4 separate regions of the Homo sapiens genome follow, and all the other regions are linked to region 3. The links come from fine-mapping of genetic effects on gene expression. A gene starts in region 3. Each other region holds a variant in brackets. All regions are shown on one strand. Distances are between the middles of the regions.

Region 1 (5,294 bases), 380 kb after region 3:
ATTCATAGTACAGTTCAAATTATGTTGCATGAAGAGTTCATCCCAACATTCCACCTGGTCATTCATCTTTGGCAGCACATCTGTGAAGCCTCATTACACGCCTGCACGCTATGACACAAGTGTGACAAACAACGGGCCAGTTACTTGGGGCTGTATGTTTAGAATCCTGCTAAACAGAAAATTTTTAAATGATCATAGCTGAAATCCTAAGGAAATCATGTTTACTTCTTATATTTCACTCTGGGTTGACCCTAGGGAACATAAAACCAGATTCTACTGATCTTCCCTTATCAGATGTTTGGTTTTCTCTAAGCAAACATCTATCTGGGGAGCATGACAGGGTCATGACAGATTTCCCAGTGGGGACTGTGGAGACTGGCTGGAAGGCTATGAGTGAGTGAGCTGACATCCACTGCAGCCTTTCTCATTTTCTATTTAATTATCATGCCAAGCTGTGCAGGCTAACACGACTTTCCTAAAGTGAATGTTCATCTGAAACAAAGTTAAGAGTATCTTACGTCCAAGCTTGTTTGCTGTTTGGTTGTTGTTGCTTCCTCTCCCCTCCAGGAGAGTGGTGGTGATAGGACAAAGACAGAATAAAATGAAAGAAATTGATGAAAGAAATTGGGGATTTCTCATTTCTGAAACTTTTTCACAGTTACTTTAACTTTCCCACTTCTGATTCTTACAGGTAATTCCTAAATATTCAAACCATAGTTCATTATGCAATTGCCAAACTTTCTTTCCTCAACTTTCCATTTATTGTCTGCATTACTCTGACACTCGTCTCAATTGCTTAACTATAACAATATCCATGGTAATAGTAGCTACCTATTGAATCCGTACTATGCGCCAGCGCCTCGAATCTTCACAACAGTCCTCTGGGATAACAGTGCCTGACACGCAGAAGGAATTCAATAAAAAGTTCAACCTAGAGTCAGCTGGAATGATGGGAACTTAGAGGAGGAAACAGAGGATTAGAGAGGTGAAATAACTTACCCAAGATCAAGCAGCTGGTAAAATCCTTTAAAACTCAAGACTGTCTTACTGACTTTGCAGAGGCAAAACAGGTATCTTATTGATTGAAACTATTGTGGCATTGAAAACCATTCTGTACAAATAATGGGTCCTAAATACACACTCCCTATAGGAAGCCTTCATTGGAAAATAATAAATAATTTTACTGATCTCTGATTATATTAATTTTATTTGAAAATTAGCCTGAAAAGAGGAAATCTGAAATGGTCTCCTACCATTTGCTTTGCTGGTGTGGAGCGGGGGAACACCACTACTCTCCCTGCTGAGGAAGATTGGTTTCCAGTCTATCCATAGTAACAAATAGGGTGTCCATTTCATTCATCCTATAATTCTCTAGACATCATCTGCACATGTATACTTATCCCAAATACATTTGGACAGCAAATTTAGTGAGAGGGTCATTTTTTATTCAAATAAATATTTTCCTCAGTAAACTTTTTTTTTTACAAAGAAACTTTTAGGGATTTGGAAATATTTTACTTTGGAATGGAAGGCAGTGTGTTGTTATAAAATTACCAAAACTTTTAATAACTAACCAAAATTTTTCTTAGTTTATGTAACATTTATCAAGACTCTTTTGGCTATGCACATTAATCAAATAATATCTGAAACTTCACTTTTATCAAGTGTTTCTCATTATGCAAACTTTTAAACTAATTCATAATTAGTTGCCTAGGCATTTTCATTAGCCAGAGACACAATTTCCTTCCCATTTCACTTATAATAGCTAATGGTATAGTATGAACTCCTTAAGTATTTCAGATGACTTCGCTTTCTAGTTTGATTTTTTTAAAAAAAAGATCTTTGCTTTTCCATTTCTTCAAGGTCAGGTATAGAGAAAGCTATAGTTCAGGACTCTGGTCTGACCCTGTTCTCTGTGTTTTGATCTGATTCCCAGAGGAGGCACAGCATCCAATCTTTATCAAATACAAGAAGCTCCAAGTCATACTAAAGCATACTGAGAAGAGTCTATGGTAGAGACGACTCTCCTTCCAATGAGCTCAGATCTCAGCCATTATCTCACAACAGCATTCTTTGTTTTCTGAAACCCGAAACTAACAAAGGTCTGGGAAAGGGACATGGTTTCTCATCTAGACTGTATTACCACCATCACCTTTGGGTGTTCCCATTCTCAATAACATTTTAGCATCACATCATGTTCAAAATAGTCTTTCATTATTTTGCAGTCAACTTTTCTGTTTTCTTCTCAGGAGTAAGGTATCTATTTGTTTGGATTTCCCTCTCTCCACCTCCTGCATAAGAAATTTTCTAACATTTGTATGATACATGAGGGAAGAATTCTTGCTAATTTTTATCTTTTTCTCTGTAGTCCCCTGCAGTTTTAAAACATTTCATTTCACATTTCAATTGGCCTCATTTCCTTCTTCAGCAGTGCCCTTGTACTTTCGTTCTCTGGGAGCAGAGCCCCACCCATCACCTTCTTACTTGTCTGCCCCTCTAACTGCAACCAA[C/T]GGGGCATTGTTACTCTCCTCTCTACACCTCCCTTTGAGACCACATTTCAGACACTAGAAAAAAAAAAGTTTTCTGTACAACTCTACTTCACACTTGAATTTTTCTATGTAGACCCAAATCTATCTGAAACTTCCTTTGGACAGTCTGAAATATTAGAGTGCCATTTCAGCAGACATATCACAATGTTCTTTATCTTCTATGCCTACATTGAATATGCCATTTTTGTCCTGTGGCTGTTTAACAGTTTCTCTGCAAATGCCTCCCAGCAATTTTGTGGCTTCCTTATATATTTATTTTAACATTTGTCATATAACATTCCCTTCCCAAAGGTTAAATCAAGCTATTTCTTGCTGACAATCTAAATTACAGTAAATAAATCTTTTGACGTAAGACTCAATGAGTAACTAATGCCCCGCCCTCTCCCCTCTGTAGCCTCCTGTGTGGGCATTTCTTCTTATCATCTGTGGGTACCTTCCATGGATAAGAAATCATTGTTCACTTTTCTGTGCACATTTTCTTCCCTCCTTCAGAGACCAATATGCTTTCCCTCACTTACTAGAGATTCCTGTTCCTTCTATGCCAAGACTTGGTCAGAGTTTTCCCATCTCTTGTTTCTTCTAATTCTATGTTACTGCAGTTGGTTGATTGAAAACAGTTAAGTTTTATGCTGTTGAATCTTATTCTGAGTCATCCTAAAAGTCCTTTGTTTCCATATGGCTGTTTAATTTCAACCTCACTTCTTCTAATACTCTTCTTCTTTTTATTTCCCATGTTACCTTTTATACTTGCTACTTCAGATTGGTCCTTTCTTGGGAGTAATAATTAAGTTAAGGTTTAATCCAAAAGAAGAAGCATGTAAGAGTGGAATTCACAAAGTCTGGGATATGAAACCTGATTCTGCTATATATGAGCTGTGTGACCTTAAATCCTTCAGAGCATCGTTTTTTCAGTAAAAAAAAGCGACAAAGTTAGTATAAATTACAGAGACCTGGTGGGTTTATTGAATTGAATGTAATTTTGTCTGAACTTCCCATATATTTATTTTCTCTAAATACCTATTCCACACCCCCTTTCTCAATTTGTTTAAATCTATTATTCTCTTTTATGTGCTGCTCTGTACCTTTCAAGTTTTCTACACAGACACCATCCCATTATAATTCTTTCTCTAGAGACAGAACAGACTGTGATGTGGATTCTGGAGCCATAAACTTGGGCATGAATCCTGGATCTAAATTTTTTAATATCCTTTGCAATTTTCTTGGACTGTCTATGTCTCAGTTCCCTCATCTATAAAATGAGAATTGCAATAGTACTGATGTCATATGACTATTGTTAGAATAAATTAGTTGACACATGCAAAAGACAAAACAGTGTCACACACAGTAATTGCTTAGAAAACATGACTCCCATTTAACTGCGACCCCTTTGATGGCAACATTTCAGTTCCACTCATTTATTTCTCCTAAAAGCAGTACGCGTATTACCTTGAATACAGTAAGTGCTCAATTAACGATTAATAAATTGGACTAACGAGTAAAACTATCTTGAATGCTTTCTGGTTCATTTAGGACACTTGGGAAATGTTTGTTTTCCTTGTGACAACTTTTAATAATTTCCCTTCTGGATGAATAAGCACTGTTATTCTGATTTAGAGAAAGTTTGTCACAGAAAAGCTGTGTATTCAGCAGCCTCCTTGGGTGGGAGTCAGATGTACTGAAATCCAGGTGTTACCAACATTAGGCTAAGATATGCTGCTTCCTGAGCTGACTATGGGTCTTAAGCCCACAAATCCCAAGTCTCTCATCCTGGCCAATGGTAAATATTTCTTATCCTTGAAGTTGTCTTTATGTGATTTATTCTCACTTGGGAGCCAAGGCATGAGGTGGCTGATAGTTTGAAATGTGCCTGAGAGCAGCAATAGTCAACGATAATTTAAGGTTCCAATCTATTTCTAAATCAAAGTCTAATTAATTATCTTTGAATTAAAAGGCATAAGTCCTTGATAAACAAATGGCAAGCTACTTGCTTTTTTCCTCTTTACCCTTTTAGAAGCCTGTAAAAACTCAAAAATTGCACTAACCATACTCTATATTAACTACTCTCCAAGATGTCTATCACAACCAGATTCAATAATTTATTATTATTATTATTGACAATCAAATGACACACTTGTGGTCCAACTATTATTTTCATAGATAACAAACCAATGCCTTGCTCCCTGGCATTGAAAGGAGGCTTAATAAAAATTTTCTAAAACCAAAATCAGGTATTTTTTAAAAGCTTCCCTAAATCTTGTCCTCTATTTTGCAAAAAGGAAGAAGGAAGAGGAGGGGAAGATGGAGAAAATGTTTGTTAGAAAAAGGAAAAGTAGCATAAGCCATTAAGGAAATGGTTACAGATACTGTGTTTGAATAGCCTCCTTGAAGTGGTTCACAAAAAATAAATTTGTTTTTTAAAAATCAATAAGCCAATCTAATAGAACAGAAGAACAAATGAGTAAGAACAGTAACCTTATGTTAGGAAAGGCTTCTGATAAAACAAATGTTCTCATGGCATTTTATGTTGATAACTTCATTTGGGTTTGGTTAAGCAGCAAGCCACAAAGTGAACAGACATTGCCCATGGGGACAAGAGGATTATCAAAGCTTCCTGAATATCATAAGGCTATGAATTAGTTCAAAGTGCCTAGTTTAGCATGTTTCACACTATTATCAAATGAAAATTCCTGAAGAAAGGCTACATCAGTACAACAACTGGGAATTACTGGAATATATATGACATAT
Region 2 (5,294 bases), 33 kb after region 3:
TTCGTTCATTTGTTCATTAAGCAAATATTTATTGAACGACATACCAAGTATTGTTCTGTGCACTAAGGAGTCAATGGTAAACAAGAAGAATAATTATCTGTCTTTTTAGGGCTTACAGTGTAGTGGAGAAGATTTAAACAAGCAAATTTAAACAAGCAAATAAACAACATAGTTTCAGAGTGAAAGGTGCTATGAAGAAAATAAAATATTAGTAGGTGAGGGATAGAAGGTGATAGTGGGTGAGTGTCATCTTAGATAGATCAAGGAAGCCCTCTCTGATGAGGTATCATCTGAGCAGAAGGAGAGGGCCACAGCAAGGTCGTCTCTAGTGAAGAGCATTCTTGATTGAGGGCACAGCCAACATAGCTTGGCAATGAGCTTGGCATGAGTGAGGAGCAGCAAGAGGCTCCTATGTGTCTGGAGCCTAGTGAGTTGGTGGGGAAGGTAGAAGGATATATGTCCTGGCGGGAGATGGAGACCAGGTGAGGAAGCCTTGCGGGAGGTGGTAAATTGATTGGGTTTTATTCTGAATGTAGTGTGAAGTCACTGTACCATTCTAAACAGGGGAATGCTGTGATCTCATTCAAATCTGTTAAAAGGGCATTCCACCTGCCTACAATCTGAAGAACAGATTGTAATGGGGCAAGAGTAGAAGCAGGGTGATTGGTCAGGAAGCGATTGCCAGGAGCTGATGCCAGGATGATGGGGACTTGGACTAAAGTGGGGGAAGTAGAAGTGGGGAGAAGCAGTAGATTCGGGATGAGTCCTGGAGATCATGCTAAATGGTTTGCCCTGGATTGATTGTGGGAGAGGGAACAATGAGTCAAGTCTTGAGCCAGAGAAACCGGAGAGATCGTTATACCATTTCCCGGGATGGAGAAGACTGGGAAGAGCCCTTTATTGTAGAGGAAGGGAGTGGTGAGGATAAAGAATATAATTTTTGGCGTGGTTGCTTTGAGACATTGACATACACAGGTAGACAGGGAGGTCCAGTAGGCAAAGGCACACAGACATTTGGAGAGGAGATTGCTTTCAGAGGAGAGGTCAAGACTGGGGATTTGCCAGTCTAGAGATGATATTTAAAGACACTGGGGCTAGGCACGGTGACTCATCCCTGTAATCCCAGCACTTTGGGAGGCCAAGGCAGAGGATTGCTTGAGGCCAGGAGTTCAACACCAGCCTGGGAAACATAGTGAGACCCCATCACAACAAAAGTTAAAAGAATTAGCTGACATGGTGGCATGCACCTGTAGGCCTAGCTACTTGGGAGGCTGAGGCAGGAGGATCACTTGAACATAGGAGGTCAAGGCTGCAGTGACCTATGATTACCCCACTGTACTCCAGCCTGGGTGGCAGAGGGAGACCTCATCTCAAAAAAATAAAAATAAAGATGCTGTTCTGAGTGAGCTCATCTGACAGGAGTATAGATAGATAAAGAGAGTAAAGATAGAGAAGAAAAGGGAAGACTTAACAAAGAAAGTGCCTGTTTTCATTTCCGGATTCCTTTGTGCATGTACACTTCAGTCTCCCTCTATATGAATAAAAGAAATAACAACAACAATGACAAAAATAACAATGATGATAGCCAATTCTTTTGTGGTACTTACTATATGACAGGCACTCTTTGAAGTACTTTACATATTCATATATTAATTTCATGCAACTATATGATGTAGACACTACTATTCCCATTTTACAGCCAAGAAAACAAAGGTACAGGGAGTTTAAAGTCATTTGCTCAAAGTTACACAACTTGCATGTGGTAGAGCCAGATTCAGCCCAGGTTGTCTTGGCTTCAGAACCCATGTTCTCATTGATATTCTGTATTTATATATACAAAGCATAGAAATCACCAAGTATCATTTATCAATATAATTTGCAATTTTGTGAATAACAGTAATTTCAATTTTGAAATATTAGTAATTTTGAATTGCTAATTGTTCAAGCAAATATTTTTGCTAGAGTATATTTATATTTCTACAAGCCTGTTTAATACAGTTTGCACTTTACATTAAAAAGTAAATTCAGCAAACGCTTTAGGATACTACCCTTGACTAATAGTATTGCACAGTAAAAGCACAGACTCTGAAGCCAGTTTACCTGGGCTCAAATCCCAGCTCTGTAATTTTCCAGCTATGTTGAGAACATGACTTTAACCTTTTCCTGCCTCAGCTTCCTCATCTAAAATAGTACCTTTCTTATGGGCTTGCTGTAAAGATTAAATGACTTAATATTTGTAAAGTACTTCGAACATTATTCAGTACCTAGGTGCTGTGGTAGGCCTGTTAGTTAGGTCTGTTAAATAACTACATCTAACGTGCATAACTCTAGGTACAGGAAGTGAGGTTTCAGAAAAAGCAAATACTCTACTCTGTGCAGGTTACTTACTTATATTCAAAAGTAATTTTTTAACCCCAGTTGCTCTGTGCAAGTTAATTACTCATATTCAAAAGTAATTTTTAAACCCCAGTTGACTAGGTTACTCTGTTTCAGGAACCAGGAGTTGAGAACTGGGAAGTCAGAAGCAGGGTGTGAGAGGTAGAATTCTAGGGACAACACTACAAAGTCATAAAATGGAAAAGTCAGCAATTCTAAGTTATGGGATCACCAAATATTCAGACAGATAACCCAATAAAAAGAGAAATGCCTCTTAGGGTGCATATTGTCTTAGGAATTGAAATGAGGCTGGAGTGGAGTGGGATCGGGGGGAGAAGATATGGAAATGTTTCCAGGGGAATTTAGGGAAACTAGTAGAGTGCTTGTTACTACTCATCTAAGATGTTTAACTTGGCACTCTATTGCCTTTTTGATGTGATATCTTGATTGTTTTATTTTAGTGCAGCTGTATGATTATTTAATATCTCTATGGGTCAGTTACTTTAATAGTACCTTTATAGAATTGTTGGGAGTATCAAATGAGTTAATATAC[G/T]TAAGTGCCTAGAACAATGCCTGGCACAGAGGAAGAAGAATGTCTTTGTTCTTATACATGTGTTCATAGGTTCACCACATTCCCTGGCCCCTGTGTTATCCTATTGTTTTTCTCACTAAGAAAAACATTTTAAAATAATTAAATGCACTGGATTTTTCATATAACTTTTCACTTAATGAAGAGTCAAGTCTTTAGCTCATCCAAAGCAATAAAAAATCAACATAAAAACAATCCAAATGATACAAAAATTTGAATACATTTATGTTGACATTTCAGTGGGTAGACAGTAAAATTTCTCAGAGGCCTCACATTTTATTTTTGAAAGTATTTCATGTGCTTTATAAAATGATATTGATGAGTACAGTAAACTGATGATAAGTTAAATTCTCTAGGAGAGAAATTAATTGCATTTTAGTAATAATTTAATGGTCTGAAATTGCCTCACTTTTTGATGAAGTTGCAGAATCATATTTAATTCATATAGTAGATAAAATAAAGAATATTAATTGAAGCATCCTTGGAGATCATATTGTCCAACTCTGTAATACAACTAGTGATGTAAGTCCAAGTTCCAGAGAGGTTAAGTGGCTTCTTGTAGGTGTCGTACCTAAGGTGAAATGAGAGCTCCTGATTCTTAGTTTGTTCTTCTTTTCACTGAGTAACAGTGAATTAAATGAACTAACATTTATATCATGGTCTACTTACTAATTTTTTAAACATAATTGTAATCAACATTTATTAAAGGCTTGCTATATTCCAGGGACAGCATTAACTGGTTTTATTTTATTCTTGTAATAACTCTATGAAATAGGAGCTATTTTAATCTGCATTTTAAATATGAGAAAACTGAAACTTAGGGAAGTCAAGGAACCAACCTATGATGCCAGTGAGGGGATGAGCTGGGATTTGAACACAAATCCTCTGGCTCCAGAGTTCACACTGTTAAACACCATTCTATACAGTTTCACAGTTAAATGGGGCCAGGCAAAAATTGAAGCCTGGGCTGTATGCAGGTCTGCAAAATGGGTATCATAATAGAACCATATTTCCTCACTATTAAAATGGGAAAAATAGCAGCACCTATCTCATAGGGTTGTTGTGAGAATTAAATGAGTTAAAATAGGTAAAGTTCTTAGAAGAATCTTACACAGTGGACAGTCAATAAATGTAAACTATCCTGACTGTATTTCTTTGAAATCTATTAAAATCTTTCAGGGTTCACTTATAAGGAGACTGGTCCCTCTCTGAAACAGATCGTTTGAGAAAGTCCCACGTATATATGGAGATGTCCAAGGAATAGATTCATACTAATGTATACTTTTGGTGCTTCAGTTAAGTGGAAAGTGCTTCAGTTGAATGGAAACTCCAGACATTTTTTTCTGAATGATGTTCTAACAATACAAGAAGGGGAAGCTATGCAGTGTGCTTAGAATGTGATGAATTACACTCCCACCATCCCCCAAGTTGTGCTGATAAATGTGCAAGGGCAAAGAAAGTTAGAAAGTTGGATAAGCAGATCGATTGGTATTTCTTTTTGACAGAGTTCTGCTGCACCTTGAAATGGGGAATTTATCAATTCATTCAGCAAGGAATGTGTGCTTTTTCGTGGACAATTTTCTAGGCACTGAGGATGAATAAAACATAGCCCTTCTCATTGAGAATCACACAGTTTATATGATGTAGGCAAATATATCAGTGATAAAATTACTGTAGCACACAAGAAGTGGTAAGTGAACAAAGAGTAATGGGAATCCTGACCAGCCAGGGAGTACTGCCTGGAGAGCAGGGAAGCTTCATAGAGGAGATCTTTGTGTTGGCTTGGAAGGCCACGTATGACTTTCTTAGGCAAGGAAGATAGGAAAGTGTTTTCAGACAGAGAACCACAGTGTAAAGGTAAAGCTCGGTTGGGAAAACATAGTGTTTGGGTAAAGGCCATGTTGAGAAGGGGGTAAATAACACTGGAGAGGCTGTGCAAGGGTCAGTTTATGAGGGGCGATTTCAAATGGGGGCATGAGATGATCACTTTTGTGATTTAGTATAAGTCTGTAGGCCATGTCAGCTAGTAGGAGGGGCACCAGATCGATAACTGTCATGTTATATAAGATGAGGGAGTGAGAGGTGATGAGGGTCTGACTTCAAGACCACTGGCAATGAGGATGGAGAGGCTAGAGGTGAGAGATGCCTGAAGCAGAACTGGTAGGGTTTGATCACCAGTTGTCTATGGAATTAATTGGTGGAAAGTGAAAAACTGAAATTGATCCTACTGTTCCTGTTATTTATGTAGGTAGTGAACAAGGGTAATGGAACAGGTGTTTGCAGGGAAGCTGATGAGTTTAACATGTGCATGTGGCTTTGCTTCTATTGG
Region 3 (5,294 bases):
CAACCTCTGTCTCCTAGGTTCAAGCGATTTTCATGCCTCAGCCTCCCGAGTAGCAAGGATTACAAGCGTGCGCCACCATGCCTGGCTAATTTTTGTACTTTTAGTAGACACAGGGTTTTTACATGTTGGCCAGGTTGGTCTGAACTCCTGATCTCAAGCTATCTGCCCACCTTATTCTCCCAAAGTGCTGAGATTACAGGCGTGAGCCACAGTGCCCAGCCAAGATTTGTATTTTTAAAAACCTTTTATATTTGTTAAAATCTAACACTTTATGGACAAATTTAGTTTTAGAAAAGCTGGAAATAAACAACTTGCTGGGTATAGATTAGCCATTTAGAGCATTCATTAATTTCCAAAAATCATTTTGCATCACGGAGGTCCAAAGGAAAAATAGGCAACAAACTATATTTTAAAATCCAATGAAAGGCTTGAAGAGTCCCACGAGCTGAGTGATTTAAGAGGACAACTGTGATATTAACTTACTTCTGGCCCTTAGATGAAATATTTGCCCTTTTAGCATCAACATAATTCTGTAAATTATTATTAACAAATACGTAGATTTTATAATTGGAAAGAGCACAGTATTAAGATCATTTAGTTCATCTCCCTTCAGGCATGAATCCTCCTACCACCTACTAAAGGCGGTCACCCAGGATCTGTTGATTTGAATCACTTTTGATCATGGAGAAATCACTATCTTCCAAGGCAGCCATGCCTTATAATTCCACAGAAACCTTCCTCTGGGTGACTTTGCCCCATGACTGCTGCCTTCTGTCCTCTGAAGTTAGATATAATATAGTTAAACCTTCTTCCATATGACAATCCTTCAGCTTCGTCTGCCTAGATCCTTAGCCTCTGGGAATGTTCTCTACCTGTCTCTTTCTTCTGCAGTTATGTCTTTAGGTTCCTCTTCTAAGATTAAGATTTTTTCCCTTTCCCCATCTTTTCCCCTTTGTCTAGACTTAATGTCTCTTTAAAATGTGCTATTTTAGGAGGCTGTGCATTCTCCTGATGAAAGGCAAGAACGGCATCTTGTATTCTTTTTATTGTCCTTAGTCACGTGAATGCAAAATGTCTGAGACAGGTCTCAGTCAATTTAGAAAGTTTATTTTGGCAAGGTTAAGGATGTGCCCCTGACACAGCCTCAGGAAGTCCTGAGACATGTGCCCAAGGTGGTCGGGGGTACAGTTTGCTTTTATATATTTTAGAGAGACATGAGACATCAATCAATATGTGTAAGATGTACATTGGTTCAGTCCAGTAAGGTGAGACAATTGGAAGTGGGGGCTTCCAGGTTAGAAGTATAATAGACAAGAGACAAAAGGTTGCATTCTTTTGAGGCCATGATCAGCCTTCCACTCAATAGACAGTTTAGTCTGGCCCAGTGAATCTGCATTTTTTGCATAAACGATGGAGAAGAGAAAGCAATCAGATATGCATTTGTCTCAGGTGAGCCTCAGAGGGATGAATTTGAATAGAATGGCAGGCAGGTTTGCCCTAAGCTGGTCCCTTCTTGATGTTTCCCTTTAGCTTGGTGATTTTGAAGTCTCAAGATTTATTTTCCTTTCACAGCCATCTAACAGTGAAGCATGGTTTCACTTTACACTTGAACCACTATATCCACCAGATACAAACTTTGCCTCAAACACCACACTCACTTTACACAAACCTGTTGACATCACACCTAAGTCAGCTTTTCTTGAGCTCCCATATGAACAAATAAACATTCCTCTGATCTGCGGATATCCCGCCAGGAAGGGCCGGCTTGGGCAGTGCTGGCTCAGCTAGCCCGCCACCGCTACCATTGGATTTCCTCTTTCTCCTCTGATTTTAAGAAGTGAGAAAAAAAAGCAATTCCTGTTAATTATGTAGACAATGCAAGGGTCTCCAGGCTCCATTTCAGCAAGTTGGTTTCATCAAGATCACGAAAAGATGCATGCGTCCCCGAGACCAGAGAGGAGTTAGGGACCCCGACACGGAGGTGGCATCAGGTAACCCTCAGGAGTGAGGGTGGGGAAGAGGGCATGGCTGATGCTGGGAATGAGCAGCGCCCGCGGAGGGAAGGCCGGCGGTCCTGCGCCCCGGCGTGGACGCGCGCGGGAGTTCAGGCTGGGGAAATGGGTCACCACGTGCTACGGAGGCGGGGACAGGGCCCTCCTCCCCTTATTTGTAAAGAGCGCCGGAGCGGATCGCGGAGTTTCACCGCGGACCTGTCAGAGATACAGAGGTTGTGGGGGCGGGAGACAGAAAGAGAGAGAGATCCAGAGACCGAGTCTTACGTTGACACGCAGAGAGAAAGACGCAGAGACAGACAAACAAACAGATAGGAGAGGTGAGAGGCCAGCGAGTGCTTCCGATTAACTTGCCAAGCTCAGAGAAGATCCGGGGAGAGGGAGGGTCCCCTTTAAACGCGCAATCCCCAGGACTCCGGAAGAGCCCTTTTCTGCAGCTCCTTGGGGACTGCACGTCTCACTTCTAAGTTTGCGGCGGAGAGAATAAAGCAGAAAGACAGGAAGAGGAGGTGGAGTTCTACAGTTAGTGTGGTTTTAGTTTTTCCTAAGAAGTGGCGTGGTTTGGGGCTTTATATCCGGGAGGAGCATATGTACGCAAATCCTGGGGCGTTTGCAAACCCGGATCCGGGGCGTCTGGCCCCATGCCCGGCCGGGCGTTTGAGGGCTACTGCCACGCAGCGTTTCTGGAGCCTGCCGGCTGGTGCCCTGGTGGCCTTTATCTCTGTCCCCCTTTGTCCTCTTTATCTCAGGCTCTCCAGGAGGCCGGGGGGCCCACTCCGCCTATCGCTCCCCTCGGCTACGCTGCCACTTCAATGCCCCGCAGGTCGCGAGCTGCTGTTCTTTCGAAGGCGTCGGAGAACCAGGGGCGTCCCGCGCCACCTCTGACTCGGAGCAGCGCCGAGCACTGACGCTCCCGCCCTTGGGCAAGGACGCCAGTGCGCCCGCGCGCGTCCCTCTGCGCGGCAGCCCGTCGCGGGCCCTCAAGGGGAAGCCCAGGCCAGGATGGCCCCGGGTCGCGCGGTGGCCGGGCTCCTGTTGCTGGCGGCCGCCGGCCTCGGAGGAGTGGCGGAGGGGCCAGGGCTAGCCTTCAGCGAGGATGTGCTGAGCGTGTTCGGCGCGAATCTGAGCCTGTCGGCGGCGCAGCTCCAGCACTTGCTGGAGCAGATGGGAGCCGCCTCCCGCGTGGGCGTCCCGGAGCCTGGCCAGCTGCACTTCAACCAGGTAAGGCCGCCAGGTCCGGGCAGCCCTCCGTACTGTGGGTGTCCCTAGACTTCACTTTGTATATGAGCCGTTTTTATTTGGGAAAAGTGCAGGAGAAAGAATCTTGTTATATTTCTCAAGTAGAAGGCGGTATCTGGTGACACTTGCTTTTCACTAGACGAGGCTGAAGGATTAAAAGGTTAACGTTGTTAAGGGATTTGGCAGCCGGAAACTGCAGTTTTACGCCTGATGAACTGAGAGGTCCGACTCTGGTGATTTTAACATTTTATAGAAAACTTTATGAAGTAGTTGAGGGTGTGACGCCACTTTAACAGATGCTTTTTAGATAGGAATGAGTTACTTAAATCTTGCCAGAAAGATAACGGCTCGCACACTTCCTACAAGGTTAGCAAGGAAGATTATCACATGCCACCCTGGTTAACAGTTGCCCGGTGCGTAACCAGTGCTATTTGAAAACGAGATATAATGTAGTTCTGGCTCCTGTGTACATTACATGAGGCATTCAGGGCTGAAACAGGGGCGGCCTTGAGACTAAGATTCTAATTTGGTCATCCAGATGGTGGTAGACTAGGCTTATATTGTTAGTTCCTTGTCATATGTCAGGTCAAATATTTGATTCTAGTATTTATCCAAAATGATTAAAAAAATTTTTTCAGTAATAAACAGGGTACTACTAGGCATTTGGCAATACCTTGGGTTTAAGAACAAGCTTCAAACTACGTAGGAGCAGTTAAACATCATACCTCTTTGTAAACATAAAATCAAATTATTCCTAATTATTTCTATAATAAATACTCTGTGATTGGGTAGTTCTTAAAATTGTTAAGTAGACAAAGTGTAGTTTCTGCATCCTTCCAAAACTGCTCTCCGTCTTTTAAAACTCAGTTAACTCAGTGCTTTGACTTGTTTTCCTTTACTCCTGTCCCACTGACAGCTGATATTGGAGGGTAGAATACGGTATTTTCCATATCGTTTGTCATTTTTGGACGATGTTAGTTTGTTACAAGAAGTTTTTGGGGTCCAAGATGTTTGGGAAATGCTGCATATTATACTCTGCTCTTGGAAATTTGGCGTTTCCTAATGAATATGACTTTAGATTACAGTTAGGGAAACTGTAATCAAATAAATTCCATGTTAATAACATTATACGTAGATTGATCTTTTTGTTAGAAATATCTTACCACAATTAAAGTATATGGCTCTTAAGAAAAGTAGAACTTTCTGATGCCATGGCATGTCAGAGGTGGTCTCTCTTTGATCTAGAAGGGTTTTGTGGTCCCCTTATGCATGTTCTTTAGTAAATTGTCTATAATTCCAGTTCTGGGCATGGTATTTTATCTGGGGTAATATCTGAGAAATGATGTGTTGGAAAAATGGAAATGCCCACAAATTATGCTAATATTTAAGAAAATAAAGTGTTTGCTGGCTAGTTGCATTCTTTTCTTATCAAATAGGGGAAACAACTGAGCTGACTCCAGTATTTCCAGGTAGGTATGGTCACGTGCTTGGAAAGAAGTTTAGAGGATTGACTTGAAGCTGCATATCTGTAGCCCACACATTGTTTTGACTTGCATGACCTCCTTATCTTGCAGTGTCTGGAGGTGTTGATGAATTTTAAAGGGGCAAAAGACCTCCCCACATCACCTTTGCAAAGACATTGGAAAACATGCCTAAATTATTTAGGAAAATTGGTTAAGTGTACCAGTAATACGATTCTCTGTTTATTAGCAGGCAGGATGTCTCAATAGGTAAAATTATATGTATCTTGACACCTGTTTTCTCATTCTCATGTTTGCATATTTAACTGCCCTCATTATGGCCTCTGTGGGCATCAAAAAGAGACAGGAAGAAGCCCATAATTACCTTGGAAAGAAAAGGAAGCCAAGGAAAATTTACCACTTAATAAGCCTAACAAACATCTCTTTGATGTTCTTGCTTTTTTTTTGAGACTGAGTTTTACTCTTGTTGCTCAGGCTGGAGTGCAATGGCACGATCTCAGTTCACCACAACCTCCCCCTCTGGGTTCAAGCAATTCTCCTGCCTCAGCCTTCCAGGTAGCTG
Region 4 (5,294 bases), 62 kb after region 3:
TATTCTATATATTCAAAGTAAGGATTCTAAATCAAAAAGATACCAAAGCTAATGCATCCTGTAAATGAAGTGTGGTCTTGCCAAACTGCTTTTTGAGGTTGACATTACTATATTATATAGTAATTAGCAGACTGGCTCATGCACACATACACACATGCACACACACACACACACACCCTCATCTATAATATTTATTTGTCTCTACAATCATATCTATTCAGTTTTGTGTCTGAGGTAAATTTCCAGATAACAAATTTCACTTTTATAACTATTAATACTTCACTAATAATCTTAGTGAATAAAAAAAGAATTGAAGATATTTGAAGAACAATTTAAGTGCTGACTCTTAATAAAAGTATTAAGGGTTAGAGTTAGGGCATTGATTAGGTAGTGAAATTTGATTCTACTATATGTCTGCTTCTTAGATAGAGAATTTCAGTCCCATTCTAAGGCTCTCAATTCAATTAATAACTCTTCATTTATTTAAATTAAGTGGTGACATTCTCCTGCCTTTAACTTTGCTCTCCATGCTAATTATTGGCTCAATTTATTTAGAAGTATTATTATAGAAGTTTTGAATCCTAATAAGTAGAAAGAGAGACCAATGTGTGAGCCTAATTCTTTTTCGAAGTGATTAAGGTATTATTACTTTTTATTTGTTATCAGGTATCAGAACATTAAAAGTAAAATAAAAGAACAGACTTTATTTTACTGAATCTCTTTCTACTTAGGAATATCAAAGTGCTTAATGAACATGACTTTATCGAACCTTTATACCAACTTAGTGAAAGTGGATAAAAGTCAGAAACGTTTAGCAGCAGAGGAAACACCAATAGAGATTACATTGGAGGGTTCCATAAGACATTCCGGCCTCTGGTCTTATGCTTTCTAGTGTATCCTCCTCTATTACCAGGTTACAAAATATATATTGGAAAAAATAAGTGAGGGATCAGCCATCATTATAGTTTCCTGGGTTGCAAACAAACACCCAAATCTAGAGATTATTTCCATTTAGAAAGTAGAATCTCAAACATTCTTTTCTGGACAAACATCACTTTTGCAAAAATAGTCTGTATTTTTTTTGTAATTTTTATAGTGTTTGTGACTTTGATCAAAATCCCAGAATCATGTAACTTTTATATTAAAACAATAATGGCAATCTTAAACTGGGCCTCTGTGATATATCAGGCTACTTTTGTGACAACATTTTATATTCTGAATGATATCCTGGTCCATACATTAAATCAGTGATGCTATATTAAAGCGTAGGAAGATGGTATTCAGTCATTCATTTCATCATTTATTTTCTTCTCATCTATTCAGTGATCACCTGCCAAGTGCCAAGCTCTGCTCTACACCTTAGAAATTCCATGACAAACTAGACAGAAAATGTTCATGCGCTCTGCCATTCTGGTTCATTCTAGTGGGACACACAGCCCAACATCATAGAGTTACAAATGCCATGCAGGCACTTATAAGTAGGAGCTAACTAATGTGTACATGTGGACATAGAATATGGAATGATAGACAATGGAGATTCAGAAGGGTGAGCAGGAGGGAAGAGGGTGCATGATAAGATATTACTTAATGGGTACAATATACTTTATTTGGGTGATGGATACCCTGACATCACCACTACTCAATCTATACATGTAACAAAATTATAGTTGTACCCCATACATTTATACACATAAAATACAAAAATAAATTTTAAAATGTCCTGCAGGGAATTAAAATGTGATATGATGATGTCTGGGTCACTATGTTAGTGTGGGTGGTCAGGGATGACTTCCTCAAGGAGAACACATTTAAGTTAAAATCAGAATTGTAAGAAGGAACCATCCATGTGAATATCCGAGAGAATAATATTATGGCTGAGGAAACAGCCAGTGAGAAATCTCTATGGTAGGAAACAGTTCAGTGGGTTTTAGGAACAGAAAGATGAACAGAGTAGGTAGGCACAGTGGATGCTTGTATAAAATGACATTGGAAAACATTCTAGATAGAAATTCTTCTTCAAAGTAAGCATTCCTGTGTTCTAACACTTAAACAGTGTTAATAATACAAGACATTGGCTCCAAAATTACATTTTATTAAATGTTATAAACTAAGAACGGGTCAGTCAGGAAAACAACTGTCTTTTGCAATCAGTTTTTGCAATCTGTAAACAGTAGATTATATGTAGTGGATTTGAAAGCTCTAGGATGGTGTTTTTTTTCTCCTCAACAATTGGAAGTATTATTTTAATTGTGTGTGAAGTGTTAGCAATCCTCAGAACACCTCAGCACATTAGTTCAGTGTCTTCTACTCAAAACCAGAGGTACTTGAATCCTGGAGGTACTCCACCTTCCAGGATGGAGACTGGCAAACAGCAATAAAATAATAATTTCTTACCTTATAGCAACAAGCTACTTAATTCAGAAATTCCTCATCTGAAAAACTCAATTCTCTTGAGCAGTATCTTGACCTCTTATTGCATAGGCTTAGGAGTCAAATAGTCTGGGCACAAATCCTGACTTTCCCATTTTCTAGCTGTGTCGTTTTGGGCAAGTCCCTTCTTCCAGTGTCCTCATTTATTTCCTCTGTAATCAGGATGATGTACTTATCACAGGCATTTAGAAAAGCATCTTGCAAACAATAAATCTTTAACAGGTTATCTGCTTTCATTGCTAATATTCTTACTTTTATGCCCTCCCTTTCCAAACCATCTTCTGAAAAAATATGTAAGTCCACAAAGTTAGATGCAAGATGGTTGCCAATAAAAGTCTTCTGCCTTGAGGGCTGGGTGTGGTGGCTCACGCCTGTAATCCCAGCACTTTGGGAGGCTGAGGCAGGTGGATCATGAGGTCAAGAGATCGAGACCATCCCGGCTAACACGGTGAAACCCTGTCTCTACTAAAAATACAAAAAATTAGCCAGGCATGGTGGCACGCACCTGTAGTCCCAGCTACTTGGGAGGCTGAGGCAAGAGAATCGCTTGAACCGGGGAGGCAGAAATTGCAGTGAGCCAAGATTGCGTCACTGCCTTCCAGCCTGGACGACAGAG[T/C]GGGACTCCGTCTCAAAACAAACAAACAAACAAACAAAAAACTGCCTTGATCACTAGAATAGAGGAGGAAGCCTCTGAGATCCATTGACTGAAATGTATTTTGATATTTCATTTCTCTACTTAATTCAGCACCCCCCCCCACCATTTAATTAAAAATAATATTTATTGAACACCCATTAAACGCTAAATTCTCGGCCAAAAAGGAAAAAAACATCTTGTCCTGCCAGGAGATTTTAATCCAGTTCTTCAACTCTCAGTAGCTAAGAATTGGCAAACAAACAACAAAAGCATCTCTGCACTGAATTTTATGTTATATTGGTGAACCAATTTGGAATTGATTAATGAACTTTTTTTATGCACATCCTTTCCATGTTGTGCATAAATGTCCATGTGTTTGCTCTTTGGAAAGACTGGAATACATGCTTCATGGGACAATGATTTGTGAACATGTCATGAGAGAAGATGTACTTTTAATATTACTACACATTTATTTAGTCAACAAACACTCACTGAGTGCCTACAGTGCTACTACATTCTGGGTGAACAGGAACCAACAACACAGAAAATAAAATCCTGTATCTCCTGGGGATCACAGGCTTAGCTTCTTTGGCATGGAGGCTCAAATCCTGTTTCTGCACATTTCTAGAGGTATGACTTTGGTTAATTTACCTAACCTTTCTATACCTCAGTTCCCTCATTTGTAAAATGGGGATAATATCTATATAGGGCAGTTGTGAAGATTAAACGATGGTATATGTAAAATGCGTAGGACAGTACCAGGAGCATAGTGAGAATGCGGCAGGAGGCTCTGTTATTACTATAAATATTATTATCACTACTGCTCTGTGCTCCAGTGGTGTATTCTGTATATTTCATGCCCGATTCTTCTTTTCTTAAACGGGTCAGCACATCTTTAGAGTGGCACAGTGACAGCTTTCAGAGGGAATGTGGTCCTGGTACCCTTATCTTGTGTGGCTCCTACTTCTCACGCTCCATGTACAGAGTAGAGACAGCCTCTGTTTTTCTGAACTATTGAAATATAAACCAGGGTGCCAGTTGCCCCTTGCAGAGAATAGCTTTATATTTGTCTCTCTGTTGGCACCTTGCCTATTCCTTATCACCCCCACTTGGTCCTAAGTGCCTGTTCTGTCATGGTGGTTGCAGTTACCACTGGCTCTAATCTCTCTTCTCATCTATTTCTTTGCCTCTTACCACTTTCCCTAAGCTCCTTGACCGTGTGTTTCTAGATCTTCTCTGCCACAGAAAGCAGTCTCTCTTTTTTTGCAGGTGAGTCACATGGAGTATATTGAGTGGGATCTTGAATATTTCAGTTCTTGATGTAATTCATGTCAAATGTTAAGACATGACAGGCAGCTGCTGCACGGGGTTGGTTTCTCCACGGCATCCCATCCTACCCCTGTTTTCTCATATGAATTATTCTGAAAGCCTTGAGGCTGATCAGTGTAGATATTCCTATATTTTGGAAACACTACTTTTAAGGATCCTAGCAACTGATTTCTCCAACTTACATTGAAATTTAAACAATTTCCTGGTGCCTCCTGAATCCCTTTAAGATGTTGCAGTAAGAATGAGAGTTGTGTAGGCGGGGAGGTACATTTTATGGGCTTTTTATAAGAAATGATATCCTGTGTCCTGAATGTACCAGTGCATTAATGCCATCCTCATCTGTAGCAACAGTAAGCAGCCTTTTAGAGTGGTATAAATAGTCCATTAGGATAACCATAAATATTTAACTATTATTTACTTTAGATTCCATTGGCAAAGTAGCAGATTTCTTGAAAACCTCTCAGGTTTCTCCTAAATTGTTCTTTTCAAGGCAGTAAAAATGCTATGGTCCCAAACTGAAAATAACTGATTATTAATTAAACTACTAAAGACCAAAACAACTTTACTCACATTCCACAGGATTGGAGAGACAGGAAACAACTTGCGAGGTTTCTAGAAATTGTTATTTTCTTGTTAATGGTTATTTTAATTAGCAAAGAGAGTTTTGGAAATAGTTTTGAGCTTTACCTGAAACTGAATGACTGGAAGGTAAGTGCATTTGAATTATATTTGGTTACATGCATTAAAGGATAAATAATTTCTCTTTTCTCATGTGAAGCTTCATTTTGGTAGTTAGCTGACTTTTCAGGTAAGGAGAAGGACCAAGTAATCACCAGCTATAAAATACAAACATTTATCACTGGAAAACCTAGTAATGAAAGCAAAGCCTATCAAAACTTTA

Direction of the effects. Positions count from the first base shown, and alleles are read on the strand shown. Sizes are in standard deviations (SD) of each study's normalised expression.
With allele C in place of T in region 1, the expression in lung of the gene that starts at base 2,195 in region 3 is lower (moderate effect, 0.56 SD a copy in GTEx).
For the expression in subcutaneous fat of the gene that starts at base 2,195 in region 3, G is the low allele of the variant in region 2 and T is the other (moderate effect, 0.61 SD a copy in TwinsUK).
With allele C in place of T in region 4, the expression in monocytes after muramyl dipeptide of the gene that starts at base 2,195 in region 3 is lower (large effect, 1.3 SD a copy in Kim-Hellmuth 2017).

Evidence for each region. PIP is the estimated chance that this variant, and not a neighbour inherited with it, causes the effect. A credible set is the group of variants that fine-mapping cannot tell apart.
Region 1: its variant is the best candidate, but not a certain one, in a credible set for the expression of SLC39A8 in lung (GTEx, PIP 0.59).
Region 2: its variant is the best candidate, but not a certain one, in a credible set for the expression of SLC39A8 in subcutaneous fat (TwinsUK, PIP 0.60).
Region 4: its variant is the best candidate, but not a certain one, in a credible set for the expression of SLC39A8 in monocytes after muramyl dipeptide (Kim-Hellmuth 2017, PIP 0.84).

What each region holds. Positions count from the first base shown.
Region 1 is chr4:101,965,780-101,971,073 of GRCh38, reverse strand. All of the region lies in intron 7 of BANK1 (B cell scaffold protein with ankyrin repeats 1), which reads right to left. Among named protein-coding and RNA genes, the nearest start is that of BANK1, 180 kb to the right of the region's middle. The variant C/T (reference allele first, on the strand shown) is at 2,511.
Region 2 is chr4:102,309,686-102,314,979 of GRCh38, reverse strand. All of the region lies in intron 3 of SLC39A8 (solute carrier family 39 member 8), which reads left to right. Among named protein-coding and RNA genes, the nearest start is that of SLC39A8, 33 kb to the left of the region's middle. The variant G/T (reference allele first, on the strand shown) is at 2,930.
Region 3 is chr4:102,342,383-102,347,676 of GRCh38, reverse strand. It overlaps SLC39A8 (solute carrier family 39 member 8), which reads left to right and starts at 2,195. Exons shown (of 9, transcript NM_001135146.2): 1 at 2,195-2,332; 2 at 2,762-3,233. The coding sequence starts at 3,015. RefSeq lists enhancers at 1,663-1,712, 3,613-3,672 and a silencer at 2,893-3,142.
Region 4 is chr4:102,280,511-102,285,804 of GRCh38, reverse strand. The region is part of intron 6 of SLC39A8 (solute carrier family 39 member 8); the gene reads left to right. Among named protein-coding and RNA genes, the nearest start is that of SLC39A8, 62 kb to the left of the region's middle. The variant T/C (reference allele first, on the strand shown) is at 3,047.